Regions from separate parts of the Homo sapiens genome. Here region 2 is linked to region 1. Evidence: fine-mapped expression QTL. Tissue or cell type: esophagus mucosa. Region 1 holds a variant in brackets; the other region holds the start of a gene. All regions are shown on one strand. Distances are between the middles of the regions.

What was found. PIP is the estimated chance that this variant, and not a neighbour inherited with it, causes the effect.
Region 2: KLC3 starts here. The variant in region 1 is fine-mapped to the expression of KLC3 in esophagus mucosa (GTEx, PIP 0.94).

Annotation. Positions count from the first base shown.
Region 1 is chr19:45,389,005-45,397,004 of GRCh38, reverse strand. PPP1R13L (protein phosphatase 1 regulatory subunit 13 like) reads left to right here. Exons shown (of 13, transcript NM_006663.4): 4 at 1-460; 5 at 569-667; 6 at 746-837; 7 at 1,119-1,569; 8 at 4,665-5,125. Among named protein-coding and RNA genes, the nearest start is that of PPP1R13L, 12 kb to the left of the region's middle. RefSeq lists enhancers at 4,406-4,922, 4,923-5,441, 5,403-5,452, 5,703-5,762. The variant A/G (reference allele first, on the strand shown) is at 3,799.
Region 2 is chr19:45,337,241-45,345,347 of GRCh38, reverse strand. It overlaps KLC3 (kinesin light chain 3), which reads right to left and starts at 4,598. Exons shown (of 13, transcript NM_177417.3): 1 at 4,502-4,598. RefSeq lists a silencer at 4,613-4,702.

The DNA of each region.
Region 1 (8,000 bases):
CCCCGGAAGGCGGCCACCGACGGCGCAGACACCCCGTTCGGACGATCAGAGAGTGCCCCAACCCTACACCCCTACAGCCCGCTGTCCCCCAAGGGACGGCCGTCGTCGCCGCGCACCCCGCTCTACCTGCAGCCGGACGCCTACGGCAGCCTGGACCGCGCGACCTCGCCCCGGCCCCGCGCCTTCGATGGCGCAGGCAGCTCCCTCGGCCGTGCGCCCTCCCCGCGGCCCGGGCCAGGCCCGCTCCGCCAGCAGGGTCCCCCCACGCCTTTCGACTTCCTGGGCCGCGCAGGCTCCCCCCGCGGCAGCCCCCTGGCGGAGGGGCCCCAGGCCTTCTTCCCCGAGCGTGGGCCGTCACCGCGCCCCCCTGCCACAGCCTACGACGCGCCAGCGTCCGCCTTCGGGAGCTCCCTGCTAGGCTCCGGCGGCAGCGCATTCGCCCCGCCTCTGCGCGCGCAAGGTGAACCCAGGGGCCCCTCGCGGGGCCTTTGACTCGCGGGGTCAAAGCGGGCAGGATCCGGGGCTCGCCACCCCTCCCGTCTCATCCTCCCTGGAAACTTCTCCCCAGACGACCTGACGCTGCGCCGGCGGCCTCCGAAAGCCTGGAACGAGTCTGACCTGGACGTGGCGTACGAGAAGAAGCCTTCGCAGACAGCGAGCTATGAACGTGAGTGGTGGAGGCCCGGGGAATGGAGGACCCGGAGGAGAGGCAGCCCCACAGACCCTAATGATTCCCGCCCCGCAGGCCTGGACGTCTTCGCAAGGCCTGCCTCGCCGAGCCTGCAGCTGTTGCCTTGGAGGGAGAGCAGCCTGGATGGACTGGGGGGCACCGGCAAGGTGAGGAGGCGACGCCTGGGGAGGAGAGGCTGGGGAAGGTCGAGGAGTGGGGTGGGGGAGCGGGGTCAAGGCCAGTCTCCCCCTCGGGGCTGCGATCTGGGTCTCGGCGCCCGTTCCCACGCTCTCCCTTCACTGTGCTGGGTTTCTGCTCCTTCCTCACCCTTTCTTCTCCCTCACTCCCAGGGCTTCCCTCACCTCCTCTCCCTTCTCGTCTTTTGTCTTTACCTCCCCTCCACCTTCCCTCTCTCACCCGATCCCCTTCTCCCTTCCCTCTTCCCCAGGACAACCTCACTAGCGCCACCCTGCCGCGCAATTACAAGGTCTCTCCTCTGGCCAGCGACCGGCGTTCAGACGCGGGCAGCTACCGGCGCTCGCTGGGCTCCGCGGGGCCGTCGGGCACTTTGCCTCGCAGCTGGCAGCCCGTCAGCCGCATCCCCATGCCCCCCTCCAGCCCCCAGCCCCGCGGGGCCCCGCGCCAGCGTCCCATCCCCCTCAGCATGATCTTCAAGCTGCAGAACGCCTTCTGGGAGCACGGGGCCAGCCGCGCCATGCTCCCTGGGTCCCCCCTCTTCACCCGAGCACCCCCGCCTAAGCTGCAGCCCCAACCACAACCACAGCCCCAGCCACAATCACAACCACAGCCCCAGCTGCCCCCACAGCCCCAGACCCAACCCCAAACCCCTACCCCAGCCCCCCAGCATCCCCAACAGACATGGCCCCCTGTGAACGAAGGTGAGTCAGCAATGAGGGCCCTAGAGGACTGGGTGAAGGGAGGACAAATGGCAGGGGGACCAGACCAGCCCTGGGAGGTGGGGAGATCACAGCCAAATGCCTCTTTACAAGCACTGTCCCTGCAGAGAGCTAGGCCAGGTGAGTTTGGGAATTTGGGTAGGAGCCAGGGATAGCTCAAAGGTTAAGTGTGGACCCTGAAGCCAGACTGCCTGGTTCCACGCTGTGTGACCTTGGGCAAGTCACTTAACCTCACTGGGCCTCAATTTTCTTGAGTGTAAAAGGGAAATAATGGGCCGGGCACGGTGGCTCATGCCTGTAATCCCAGCACTTTGGGAGGCCGAGGCGGGCGGATCACAAAGTCAGAAGTTCGAGACCAGCCTGGCCAATATGAAACCCCATCTCTACTAAAAATACAAAAATTAGCCAGGCATGGTGGCGGGCGCCTGTAGTCCCAGCTACTTGGGAGGCTGAGGCAGGAGAATCACTTGGACCCGGGAGGTGGAGGTTGCAGTGAGCCGAGATTGCGCCACTGCAGTCCATCCTGGGTGACGGGGAGACTCTGCCTCAAAAAAAAAAAAAAAAAAAAAGGCAAATAATGATAGAATCGATCCTATTGACATATGTTATTAAATTCATATAAAGCCTTTAAAACAGCACCTGATGGGCCAGGTGCAGTTGCTCACACCTGTAATCCCAGCACTTTGGGAGGCCGAGGTGGGCAGATCACTTGAGGTCAGGAGTTCAAGACCAGCCTGGACAACATGATGAAATCCCATCTCTATCAAAAAAAAAAAAAAAAAAAAAAATTAGCTGGGCATGGTGGCTCACCACTGTAGTCCTAGCTACTCAGCTTGAGCCAAGGAGGCGGAGGTGGCAGTGAGCCAAGATCATGCCACTGCACTCCAGCACAGGTGACAGGGTGAGACTCTGTCTCAAAAATAAATAAATAAATAGGATCTGATACATAGTAAGCTATCAATAGCTACCATATTAGCCAGGCACCGTGGCTCACCCTTGTAATCCTAGCAGTTTGGTGGGCTAATGCAGACAGGATTGCTTGAGCTCTGGAGTTCAAGACCAGCCTGGGCAACATAGTGAAACTAAAATAGACTTTACTAAAAATAAAAGTACAAAAAATCTGCCGGGCATGGTAGTGGGCGCCTGTAGTCCCAGCTACTCAGGATGCTGAGGTGGGAGGATCATTTAAGCCTGGGAGATCCAGGCTGCAGTGAGCTGTGATAGCGCCACTGCACTCCAGCCTGGGTGACAGAGTGAGACCCAGTCTCAAATAAATAGCTACCATATTAGTTATAATAATTTATTAATATTTTGAGGTGTGAGATCAGTGAGTTAAGCAGATGGGCTGGAGTCTCTCTTCACTGCTAACTTGCTGTGTGACTGAAGATAAATTACTTGTCCGAAACTCTGTTTCCCGTCTGTGAAGAGAGATTAATAATATCTACCCTATAGAATTGTGACGGGGATTCAATGAAATAATGTGTATGTGTGTGTGTTTTGGGGTTTATTTATTTATTTATTTTTGAGACAGAGTTTCACTCTTTTTTTTTGAGACAGAGTCTCGCTCTTTCTTCCAGGTTGGAGTGCAGTGGTGCTTGCTCACTGCAAGCTCCGCCTCCCGGGTTCACGCCATTCTCCTGCCTCAGCCTCCCGAGTGGCTGGGACTACAGGCGCCCACCACCACCCCCAGCTAATTTTTGTATTTTTAGTAGAGACGGGGTTTCATCATGTTAGCCAGGATGGTCTCGATCTCCTGACCTCATGATCTGCCCACCTCGGCCTCCCAAAGTGCTGGGATTACAGGCGTGAACCACCGTGCCCAGCCAAGATGGAGTTTCACTCTTCTTGCCCAGGCTGGAATGCAGTGGTGAGGTTTCAGCTCACTGCATCCTACACCTCCCAGGTTCAAGCGATTCTCCTACCTCAGCTTCCCAAGTAGCTGGGGTTACAGGCATGCACCACCACACCCAACTAATTTTTTGTGTTTTTAGTAGAGATGAGGTTTTGCCATGTTGGCCAGGCTGGTCTCGAACCCCTGACCTCAGGTGATCCACCCACCTCAGCCTCCCAAAGTGCTGGGATTACAGGCATGAGCCACCATGCTCAGCCGTGTGTGTGTGTGTGTATTATTTATATGTATATGCATACTATATAAAAATATATATACACTATATATATAATGTGTGTGTGTGTTTGTGTGTGTGTGTGTAT[A/G]TATATATATTTTGAGATGAAATCTCACTCTTTTGCCCAGGCTGGAGTGCAGTGGTGCAGTGGTGCAATCTCGGCTCACTGCAACCTCCGCCTCCTGGGTTCAAGCGATTCCTGTGCCTCAGCCTTCCGAGTAGCTGGGATTACAGGCATGTGCCACCACGCCCAGCTAATTTTTTTTTTTTTTTTTTTTTTTTTGTATTTTTAGTAGAGACAGGGTTTTACCATGTTGGCCAGGCTGGTCTCAAACTCCTGATCTCAAGAGATCTGCCTGCCTCGGCCTCCCAAAGTTCTGGGATTACAGGTGTGAGCCACTCGACTCAGCCAATAATGCATATTTTTATTTCCACCTGCTTTACTGTCAGAATGAGTAAGACAGAGAAGAAATCATTAAACACCAGGATTCTACTTCCTGCTGGAGTTTTCTGCCTGAGATGTTAGGAGAGGAAACTCTCAGGATCTCAGAAAATCACATCTATCACGGTTGGTAGAAGTAGATTCTAGAGTCAGCCAGAACTGAGTTCAAGTCCCAACTGCATGGCTTTGGGCAACTGACTTGTCCTCTCTGAGGCCCAGATTCCCTTTCGGTAATGTGGAGATGGCAGTGTATCTACCTCACAAAGCAGTGGTGAGATTACAATAAGGTAGGCATGTAAAGCGCCAGGCACATACTAACTGCTCAATAAATGGGAGGCATCATAATTGTATATTATTCACAGCCCAAGGAAAGTGTAGCCCAGAGAGGGCAAGGAACTTCCCTGAGGTCACACAGAAAATCATGTGCTGGTTGTATGCCCTGGAAGTTGTGGAGAGGGAGTGTTGGGTGTCTCCTGGGGACCTGTCCTCTGATGGGCTCTTGTTCCGGCTAGGACCCCCCAAACCCCCCACCGAGCTGGAGCCTGAGCCGGAGATAGAGGGGCTGCTGACACCAGTGCTGGAGGCTGGCGATGTGGATGAAGGCCCTGTAGCAAGGCCTCTCAGCCCCACGAGGCTGCAGCCAGCACTGCCACCGGAGGCACAGTCGGTGCCCGAGCTGGAGGAGGTGGCACGGGTGTTGGCGGAAATTCCCCGGCCCCTCAAACGCAGGGGCTCCATGGAGCAGGCCCCTGCTGTGGCCCTGCCCCCTACCCACAAGAAACAGTACCAGCAGATCATCAGCCGCCTCTTCCATCGTCATGGGGGGCCAGGGCCCGGGGGGCCGGAGCCAGAGCTGTCCCCCATCACTGAGGGATCTGAGGCCAGGGCAGGGCCCCCTGCTCCTGCCCCACCAGCTCCCATTCCACCCCCGGCCCCGTCCCAGAGCAGCCCACCAGAGCAGCCGCAGAGCATGGTAAGTAATACAGGAGGAAACCGGGGTATGTTTGCTACATGAATCCAGGAGCTGTAGCAAAGAGCCCCCCAAATATAGTGGCTTAGATGAGATCGAAGTTTTCTCCTCTTTTGAGTAGAAGTCCAAGAGTTTGCAGCCCAGGACTGTAGGCACCTCACTGGAGTCAGGACCCAGGCTCTATCTACCTGGGGCTCTGCCATCCATCGGGGAGTAAGCCTGCCTTCATGGTCCTAGATGGCTGTCACCAAGTCTGCCCTCCAGCCAGGAAGAGAGAAAGAAGAAGAGAAAGTGCCCTTTCCTGTTTCAGGCAGAACCTGGGAGTTCCATACATCACTCTGCCTGCTCCCACTGGCCAGGAGCCTCATTGCAATGGGATGCTGGGAAATGTAGTCTTTAGGATAGCTGTGTGTGACTATATGGAGGGCCATCTGGGAGTCTTGGCCACATAGAGATGTTCTCTGCTCCTTCTCTCCAATAACCTGTGCCTGTGCCCTGCCCCGGGCATTCCTTCAGCAATCTCGAGTCATACACCTGGACATGACTGAGTCTTGGCACAACAGTGGGTTCATTCTGGGACTGAGAAGTCTTGCCTGAATCAAAGCAGTCACCCTCTCTTCTCTCCCTCTCTGTCTCTGTGTCTCTTGTGTCTGCTCTGCTCTCTCCTCTATTTTTTTTTTTTTTCCAGGCAGAGTCTTGCTCCATCACTCAGGCTGGAGTGCAGTGGCTTGACCTCGGCTCACTGCAACCTCCGCCTCCCAGGTTCAAGCCATCCTCCCGCTTTAGCTTCCCAAGTAGCTGGGATTATAAGTGTATGCCACCACTCCTGGCTAATTTTTGTATTTTTAGTAGAGATGAGGTTTCACCATGCTGGCCAGGCTGGTCTCAAACTCCTGACTTCAAATGATCCACCTGCCTCAGCCTCCCAAATTGCTGCAGTTAGAGGCATGAGCCACTGTTCCTGGCTTTGCTCTCTCCTCTTATAAAATAGTGAGTCTCGGCCGGGCGCGGTGGCTCACGCCTGTAATCCCAGCACTTTGGGAGGCCGAGGTGGGTGGATCATGAGGTCAGAGGTTCAAGTCCAGCCTGACCAACATGGTGAAACCCCCTGTCTACTAAAAAAATACAAAAATTAGCCCGGAGCGGTGGCGCGTGCCTGTAATTCTGTAGCAGGACGAGCCACAGACAAAACTCCTCAGACACCGGATTAAAGAAGGAAGAGGTTTTTATTCGGCCGGGAGCATCAGCGTCTTAAGAGCCGAGCTCCCCGAAAAAGAAATTCCTAGCACTTTTAAGGGCTTACAACGCTAAGGGGTCCACGTGAAAGGGCCACGATAGATCAAGTAAGCGTGAGGAACGTGACTGGGGGCTACAGACATCAGCTAACAGAACAAAACGTTTTACAGTGCTTTCTCATACAATGTCTGGAATTTACAGATAACACCAGTAGTTTTGGTCAGGGATTAATATTATTATTATTATTTTAACCACCAGGACCAGATGGTGGCGCCAAGGTCATCTAGCTATTTATCGTACTTCTGTTTTTTTCCAGCGTTTTGCTTTCTCCCTTTTTTTCCTGTCTTATAAACTAGGGAAAAGGGGAGGTGGGGGAGAAGCTGGGAAGGACAACAGGAGAAGTGGTGGTCTCATTCCAATCCCAGCTACTCAGGAGGCTGAGGCAAGAGAATCGCTTAAACCCGGAAGGCGGAGGTTGCAGTGAGCCAAGACTGCACCACTGCACTCCAGCCTGGGCGACAGAGCAAGACTCCATCTCTAAATAAATAAATAAATAGGCCGGGCGTGGTGGTTCATGCCTGTAATCCCAGCATTTTGGGAGGCCGAGGCGGGCGGATCACGAAGTCAGGAGATAAGACCATCCTGGCTAACACGGTGAAACCCCGTCTCTACTAAAAATACAAAAATTAGCTGGGGGTGGTGGCGGGCGCCTGTAGTCCCAGCTACTCTGGAGGCTGAGAGGAGAATGGCGTGAGCCCGGGAGGCGGAGCTTGTGGTGAGCTGAGATCGCGCCACTGCACTCCAGCCTGGGTGACAGAGCAAGATTCCGTCTCAAAAAAAATAAAAATAAAAATAAATAAATAAATAAATAAAAACAAGTGAGTCTCGGCTGGGTGCTGGACTCCACCTCCTGGGTTAAAGTGATTCTCCTGCGTCAGTCTCCCAAGTGGCTGGGATTACAGGCATATGCCACCACGCTTGGCTAATTTTTGTATTTTTAGTAGAGATGGGGTTTCACTGTGTTGGCTAGGCTGGTCTTGAACTCCTGACCTCAAGTGATCTGCCCGCCCTGGCCTCCCAAAGTGCTGGGATTACAGGTGTGAGCCACCACACCCCGCCAAGATTAAATACATTAATGTAGTGCTTAGCATAATACCTGGCACATAACTGTTAACTGCTCTTACTGTTGTCACCATTGGACCAGGGGATGGTCTCCTGCTGATCTTGGTCCCTGCATCTTGACTGGGAAGAGGGTTGTAGCCACATGGAACAGTCCTGAACACTCCGTGTGCGTAGACAGCGGGAAGAGATCACTTCTCAGAGAAGCAGGGGTCAGGTGGACCCCCCCAAAATGCCTATTCCTAGGCCCTCCTGAAAGTAAAGGCAAGGAACCTTGAGGCTCAGGATTTTGAAATCAAGAGGGGATGAATAACAACATGTTGAAATGGCTGAGCATCCCATTGTAGAATCACAGAGTCCTGGCCACAGAGAAACTTAAAAAATCATAGAATGTAAGAATCAAACGCTAGTGTCACCGTCTTAGGATAGTAACATTTTAGAGCCCTAGAGCATTTAAAGGTTTGAACACGATCTTAGAATTATAAAGTTAGGCTGGGCACGGTGGCTCATGCCTGTAATCCCA
Region 2 (8,107 bases), 52 kb after region 1:
AGCCAGCTCTCATCTGGAACAGTCTTGTCTACCTTCGTCTGTCCTCCCAACCCAGGGTTCTGCCCTGAGGACAGTTCCCAAATCCTATGTGTAATTAACCAAGAGAAAGCAAACAGCTAGCCTGGGGTCCCCCATCTGCCCTCAGCTCACCTGGCCAGCCTTCCCCACCCCAAGGCCCTTGGATCCCCTGGCCCAGAGCTCCCGGTTGGCCGTGTGACCTGGGACCAGAGGCACCCTCCTCTGCCGGCAGAGTGAGGCGGGGCGTGTGGAGGCGGCAGCCTCTGCGTGAGCTCATTCTTAGGGTGTTTTTGTCGGGAACCAGTCAGACCACTGGGGGTGGGTGGGGTGGGAGGAGAGGGCCGAGGGGCCAGGGCCCCCAGAAGCCCAGGAGGCCTCTAGGTTGGGGGGAATGAGGATGGGGCCATGTGTTGGCTCCCAGGCAACAGATGGACCCTGGGGGAACAGGGGCTCCGCCCTCCTCCATCGGACAAGCTTAGCCAGCCCAGGGCCTGTCGGGACACACGTGTGATAGGTGTGGTCCAGGTATGTCACACTGGCCATGTGACAGCTGAGAGTCTGAAGCCCAGCTCATAGTGGGTGGGGGCCCCCCTCTATGGGACTTCATGTGGTTGTATGTGGGTGACAAGGTCACAGAAACTTAGCTGGTGGTGCCTCTGGGGTCCTCATATACACACAAACACACTCCTCAGAAACACCTCACACACCCGCACCCTCCCTTCTTAAAGACACAATGCAACATACACATTTTCCTCTCCGAAATACAATTTGACACACACACGCACTCTCCCTTCTCTCCAATACAACATGGGGCCAGGTGTAGTGGCTCACGCCTGTAATGCCAGCACTTTGGGAGGCCAAGGTGGGTAAATCACTTGAGGCCAAGAGTTCAAGACCAGCCTGGCCAACAGGGTGAAACCCTGTCTCTACTGGAAAAAAAAAAAAAAAAATAGCAGAGCATGGTGGCGCATGCCTGTAGTCCCAGCTACTTGGGAGGCTGAGGCAGGAGAATTGCTTGAACCCGGGAGGCGGAGGTTGCAGTGAGCCAAGGTCGCACCACTGCAATCCAGCCTGGGCAACAGAGTGAGACTTCATTTAAAAAAAAAAAAAAAAAAGACGGTACACACACACACCCTCCCAGAAATACAGTTACACACACACACACACACACACACTCCCTCATTAGAAACACAATGTAGGCCGGGTGCGGTGGCTCACACCTGTACTCCGAGCACTTTGGGATTTTGGCTGAGGCAGGAGGATCACTTGAGCCCAGGAGTTCAAGACCAGCCTGGGAAACATAGTGAGACCCCATCCCTACAAAAATAAAAATAAAAAAATTAGCTGGGTGTGGTGATGGTGTACCTGGAGGCTGAGGTAGAAGGATTGCTTGAACCCAGGAGGTTGAAGCTGCAGTGAGCCATGATAGTGCCACTGCACTCAGCCTGGGTGAAAGAGTAAGACCCAGTCAAAAAAGAAAGAAAGAAAGGACAGCATAATATACATTCTCCTCTTAGAACACGCACTCACTTTCTCCTATTAAATATACAACTCAGTAAAAACATTTACATTTTCCTTTTAGAAATACAACCTAAGACAACACACTGACTCAGGCACACACATATACTATTCTTTCAAAAACAATCTGTATACACTCCCAACACACAGGTATATTCTCTTAGAAATAAAAACCAAGCCTGGGCGCGGTGGCTCACGCCTGTAATCCCAGCACTTTGGGAGGCCGAGGTGGGTGGATCAGTTGAGGTCAGGAGTTTGAGACTGGCCTGGCCAACATGGTGAAACCCCGGCTCTACTAAAAATACAAAATTAGCCAGGCATGGTGGTATGCGCCTGTAGTCCCCAGCTACTCATGAGGCTGAGGCATGAGAATTGCTTGAACCTGAGAGGCGGAGGTTGCAGTGAGCCAAGATCACGCCACCACACTCCAGCCTGGGTGACAAGAGCAAAACTCCGTGTCAAAAAGTGATAATATTATTTAAAAAAAAGAAAGAAAAGCCAACCCACGCAGAAACTAACTCTGTCTCTCCCACTCCCCAAATCACTCACATTCAGACCATCTCCTTGCACTTGACCGTGACACTCGCTGTCCCCCGAACTCACATGGCTCCCAAGCAGCCAACTCCCCACAATGTGCCCAACGCACCTCCAGATGCACACACTCCCAAGATTCACTATGGATCCCTCGCCAGTTTCCCTACTTCCTCTCCCTCCCACTCCAGGCCTGGCCAGCAGGGACTCCCACACCTACACGCCATGCACACACAAGTACTCAGATTCAGCTCCACTGTCGGAACAGAGAGCTGTGAATACGCGTGGAGGGATGCCACGTTCTCGCACACTTCACTCAAGCCACTGCATCCACCATAAGCAGCCCAGCGGTTTTTGCACATGTTGTACATGCACGATCACATACAGTAAGGGTCCTGTACGTTTTGTGCACCACAGACTTGATCGTCATTGATCTCTCCCTCTCTCTAGATATATGTATGTGTATATATGTGATGTATATATCAACCTTTAAAAAATTTAATTTTATTTTTTTGAGACTGAGTCTCGCTCTGTTGCCCAGACTGGAGTGCAATGGCATGATGTTGGCTCACTGCGATCTCCACCTCCCCAGGTTCAAGCGATTCTCCTCCCTCACCCTCCCAAGTAGCTGGAATTACAGGTGCCCGCCACCACACCTGGCTAATTTTTGTATTTTTAGTACAGACGGGGTTTCACCATGTTGGCCGGGCTGGTCTCAAACTCCTGACCTCAAATGATCCACCCGCTCCCCCCTTGGCCTCCCAAAGTGCTGGGATTACAGGCGTGAGCTACCGCGCCCAGCCAACCTTTTTTTAATTTTTAAAAAACTAAACTATGCCCAGCTAATTTTTGTTTTTGTAGAGACGGGGTATCACCATATTGCCCAGGCTAGTCTAGGATTCCTGGGTTCAAGCAATCCCCGCCGCCTCAGCCTCCCAAAGTGTTGAGATTACAGGTATGAGCCACTGCACCCGGCCAATCTGTGTGCTTGTGTATATCACACCATACCTATTCTCACACCTCACACACAAACATCATAAATGGTTGAACTCACAACCACACAGGTTCAAGAGTCATCCTGACAACCACAACCATTCTTCACACAATTTTGCCGATGTAAAACCTCCCTCTATAACCTCAGACACAGCCTTACACACACCACTCCACAGCCAGATTGACAACCACAGCAACAAACACGGCTCAACCACAGCCATCCAGCACTCGGGCTGTGTCCCAGACACACAGCAGCTCCCACACTCACACAGAGCCCCGGGTGCACAACCGCACAGCTGATAATCATAGGCACAGTCCCACACACTGATCCCTGACGCGGACCCCCTTTTCCATCCTGTCACCCGCTTGGAGGAGCATCCCACTTAAATGTCCACGTCTCCACTCCCATCTCCCACAAACTCTCCGTTGCACACCACTGCCAGCCACGGTATCAATGCAGATCACACACCCTCTAGTTCCTCTCTACACACACACACACACACACACACACGCACACACGGCTTCACACACCTCCACACCTCACTCATCCAACCCCAAGGTTCCACGCGCACCGTCCCATGAAACAGCTCCACTTCTGGACACAGTTCCGCCCAGCCCCATGCACCATCACAGTGACACACAATCAAAAGTCAATCATAGTCACCTATCACTGATCCAGTGCCACACTGTCCACCACACGCGCGCGCGCACACACACACACACACACACACACCAACAGGCAGAAAGACAACCACAGCCGCACAGCCTCTTGGTCAATCACACCTAATCCTACAACCAGTTCCACTCTCTGCCATGAAGACAGCCACACACACAGCCACACACATGCACATCAGGCCAAGCAGAAAGTCGACTACAGTCGCACTAGCTCTTGGTCGTAAAGTGCTACCAGCAATCCAATTCTACACACACACCATTCCAGTCAGAGGTCGCCCACGTTTTCACATTGCTAAAAGTGTCACATCATACACACAGTCCCATCACAGGGTTACACGGACAGTCGCTTTCACCCTCATACCCACAGCCTGACACACTCTCTTACACACACGCAAAGCCACACACACACACACACACACACACACAAACACAGGCAGGCAGGAGACTCCCATCGTGGCCCAGCCCCGCAAGCCGCACCAACTTACCCTGGCCTGCCCAGCCCCGCGCACCAGGCTCACCCGCAGTCACAAGGGCCCCCTCCCTCTCCCTCCCAGGCCCCGCCCCGTCCTCGCTGTTTACCTGCGCTGGGGTGGGGGGCATGGGACCCCAGCCAGGCCTCCAGATCCCGGAGAGCCCCAGGACGGGGCAGGGGGCATCCGGGAGCCCCAAGGCCCTTCCCCGTCTCAGGGCGAGCGGGCCCAGGGTTGCCCCCGCCCCCCATCATCGCGGCTCTCCGAGAGTCCCGCGCCCCACTCCCGGCACCCACCTGACCGCGGGCGGCTCCGGCCCCGCTTCGCCCCACTGCGATCAGTCGCGTCCCGCAGGCCAGGCACGCCCCGCCGCTCCCGCTGCGCCGGGCGTCTGGGACCTCGGGCGGCTCCTCCGAGGGGCGGGGCAGCCGGGAGCCACGCCCCCGCAGGTGAGCCGGCCACGCCCACCGCCCGTGGGAAGTTCAGCCTCGGGGCTCCAGCCCCGCGGGAATGGCAGAACTTCGCACGCGGAACTGGTAACCTCCAGGACACCTCGAATCAGGGTGATTGTAGCGCAGGGGCCTTGGCCAAGCTAAAACTTTGGAAACTTTAGATCCCAGACAGGTGGCTTTCTTGCAGTGCCTGCCCCAGAGCCTTTTCCTTGGTTGTGTGGCCTGCTTCGATCTCTCTTCCCACAGATCTCATCGTCTTTAGGTCTCTTCTCAAAGGCCACCTCCTCCGGCAGGCCTTCCCTGATTGCCCCCTTCTAAATGGCACCCTTCCACCAAAACATTACATACTCCTCTTGATTTTGTTCACAAAACTTTTCAGGGCCTAAAATTACCTTATTTATTTATTGAGAGGGAGTCTCGCTCCGTCACCCAGGCTGGAGTGCAGTAGCGCGATCTCGGCTCACTGCAACCTCCACCTCCCAAGTTCAAGCGATTCTCCCATCTCAGTCTCCCGAGTAGCTGCGACTACAAGTGTCTGCCACCACGCCCGGCTACTTTTTATATTTCTAGTAGAGACGGGGTTTCGCCATGTCGGCCAGGCTGGTCTCAAACTCCTGACCTCAAGTGATCCTCCCGCCTCGGCCTCCCAAAGTTCTGGGATTACAGGAGTGAGCCACCGCCCCCGGCCCCTAAAGTTATTTTATATAACATATATCACATCATTATGTTATGTTATATATTATGTTATTGGCAAGGGAATGTGATATCTAAGAATTGGGCTCAGGGTTCAAATTTGATTCCGGCACTTACTTGCTGTGCAGGCCTTGGGCAAGTAACTTAACCTCTCTGTGCCTCAGTTTCCCTAGTCAATAAAATATAAATAGTCTAAGGCTTTGAGAATTGAATGTTAACTAATACAGGGACAGTACTTTTTTTTTTTTTTTTTTTTTTTTGAGACACAGTCTCGCTGTGTTACCCAGGCTGGAGTACAATGGCGCTATCTTATCTTGGCTCACTGCAACTCCTGGGTTCAAGTCATTCTCCTGTCTCAGCCTCCCGAGTAGCTGGGATTACAGGCGCCCGCCACCATGCCCAGCTAATTTTTCCATTTTTAGTAGAGACGGGGTTTCCCCATGTTAGCCAGGCTGATCTCGAACTCCTGACCTTAGGTGATCTGCCCACCTCGACCTCCCAAAGTGCTGGAATTACAGGCGTGAGCCACCGCGCCTGGCCAGGACAGTACTTTTATCAGGGCCTCGCAAATAGAAAGTACTTAGTAAATACTCGCTACTGACTGTATATTATGGGTTCACTTTTTCTCCTCTACTATATAAGCTCTGAGGGCAGGGCTGTATATTGTCAGCACTGTTATCTTCAGCAAGAGCTTGATGCAAAGTCGGTGCTCAATAAATTGTGACTGAATGAAGGAATCAAGTCCTAGAATAGTAAGCTGGCCAAAGCTGGGAGGACACGATTCTAATATAACTTGAGGACGGCGCAGTGGCTCACACCTGTAATCCCAGCACTTTGGGAGGCCGAGGGGGCTGGATCACTTGAGGTCAGGAGTTCGAGACCAGCCTGGCCAACATGGTGAAACCCTATCTCTACTAAAAATACAAAATTAGCCGGGTGTGGTAGCGCACGCCTGTAATCCCAGCTACTTGGGAGGCTGAGGCAGGCGAATCGCTTGAACCCCAGAGGCAGAGGTTGCAGTGAGCCGAGATCACACCATTACACTCCTGCCTGGGCAACAAGAGCGAAACTCCATCTCAAAAATAAATAAATGCATACATACATACATGGCTCAATGCGCGCGGTACCCCGGTCACTACACTATGAAATGCTTCCAGCAGAGGGCGCTGCTGGTCCGTGGACCAAACTCCAGACTCGGCACAGCTCCGCGCTCCCTCCGAATTGCAGCCAACGTGCCCTCTACTTCCCTGTTGTCTGAGCCCCAGTGCTGATGCTTCCTCCTCCAGGAAGCCCTTTCTTATTTCCCAGGTTTCCAGGCTCTTGGGCTCCCACATCCAGCCCTGCCAACTCTGGGTCATCAGTGTGGGGAGACAGGTCAGTCCCATATTAGACTATGAGCCCCAAGAAGGGAGGAGGCGGCCAGGGGCCATGTCAGTCTCCACTGTGTCCCCAGTGCCACCTAGCACAGGCCCAACGCAGAGAAGGCATTTGGGAGAATAGGTGCTGATTGAATCATGGAAATAAAAATTCAAACTCATATCCTAACTACTCCAGCATTTTTTTTTTTTTAAGACAGTCTTGCTCTGTTGCCCAGGCTGGAGTGCAGTGGCACGATCTTGGCTCATTGTGTAACCTCCGCTTCCCAGGTTCAAGCGATTCTCCCGCCCCAGCCTCCCAAGCAGCTGGGATTACAGGCACCCACCATCATGCCTTGCTAATTTTTATATTTTTGTAGAAATGGAGTTTCCCATGTTGGCCAGGCTGGTCTTGAACTCTTGACCTCAGGTGATCCACCCACTTCGGCCTCCCAGAGTGCTGGGATTATAGGCGTCAGCCACCATGCCCGGCCTACTCTAGCTTTTTTAAAAGACAGGTGTCACTCTGTCACCCAGGCTGGAGTGCAGTGGCAGTCGTAACTCACTGCAGCCTTGATTTCCCGGGTTTAAGCAATGCTCCCTCCTCAGCCTCCCAAGTCCCAGGTAGCTGGGACTACAAATGCACCACCATACCCAGCTACTTTTTGTTGTTTTTTGTAAAGATGGGGGTCTCCCTATATTGCCCAGGCTGGTTTTGAACTCCTGACCTCAAGCGATCCTCCTGCCTTGGCCTCCCAAAGTCCTGGGATTACAGGCATGAGCCACTGTGCCAAGCTCCAGCTATTTCTTTCTTTCTTCCTTTTTTTAATTAAGACAGCATCTCACTGGGAGTGGTGGCTCATGCCTATAATCCCAGCACTTTGGGAGGCCTAGGAGGGCGGATCACCTGAGATCAGGAGGGCGGATCACCTGAGATCAGGAGGGCGAGACCAGCCTGACCAATATGATGAAACCGTGTCTCTACTAAAATTACAAAAATTAGCCGGGCTTGGTGGCATGGGCCTGTAATTCCAGCTTGTCAGGAGGCTAAGACAGGAGAATCACTTGAACCAGGGAGGCGGAGGTTGCAGTGAGCCAAGATGGCGTCATTGCACTCCAGCCTGGGCAACAAGAGCAAAACTCCATCCCCTAAAAAAAAAAAAAAAAAGACAGTGTCTCTGTTGCCCAGGCTGGAGTGCAATGGCATGATCTCGGCTCACTGAAACCTCCATCTCCCGGGTTCAAATGATTCTCCTGCCTCAGCCTCCAGAGTAGCTGGGATTACAGGTGTGCACCATCACGCCCAGGTAATTTTTATATTTTTAGTATAGACAGGGTTTCGCCATGTTGGCCAGGCTGGTCTCGAACTCCTGACCTCAGGTGATCTACCCGCCTCGGCCTT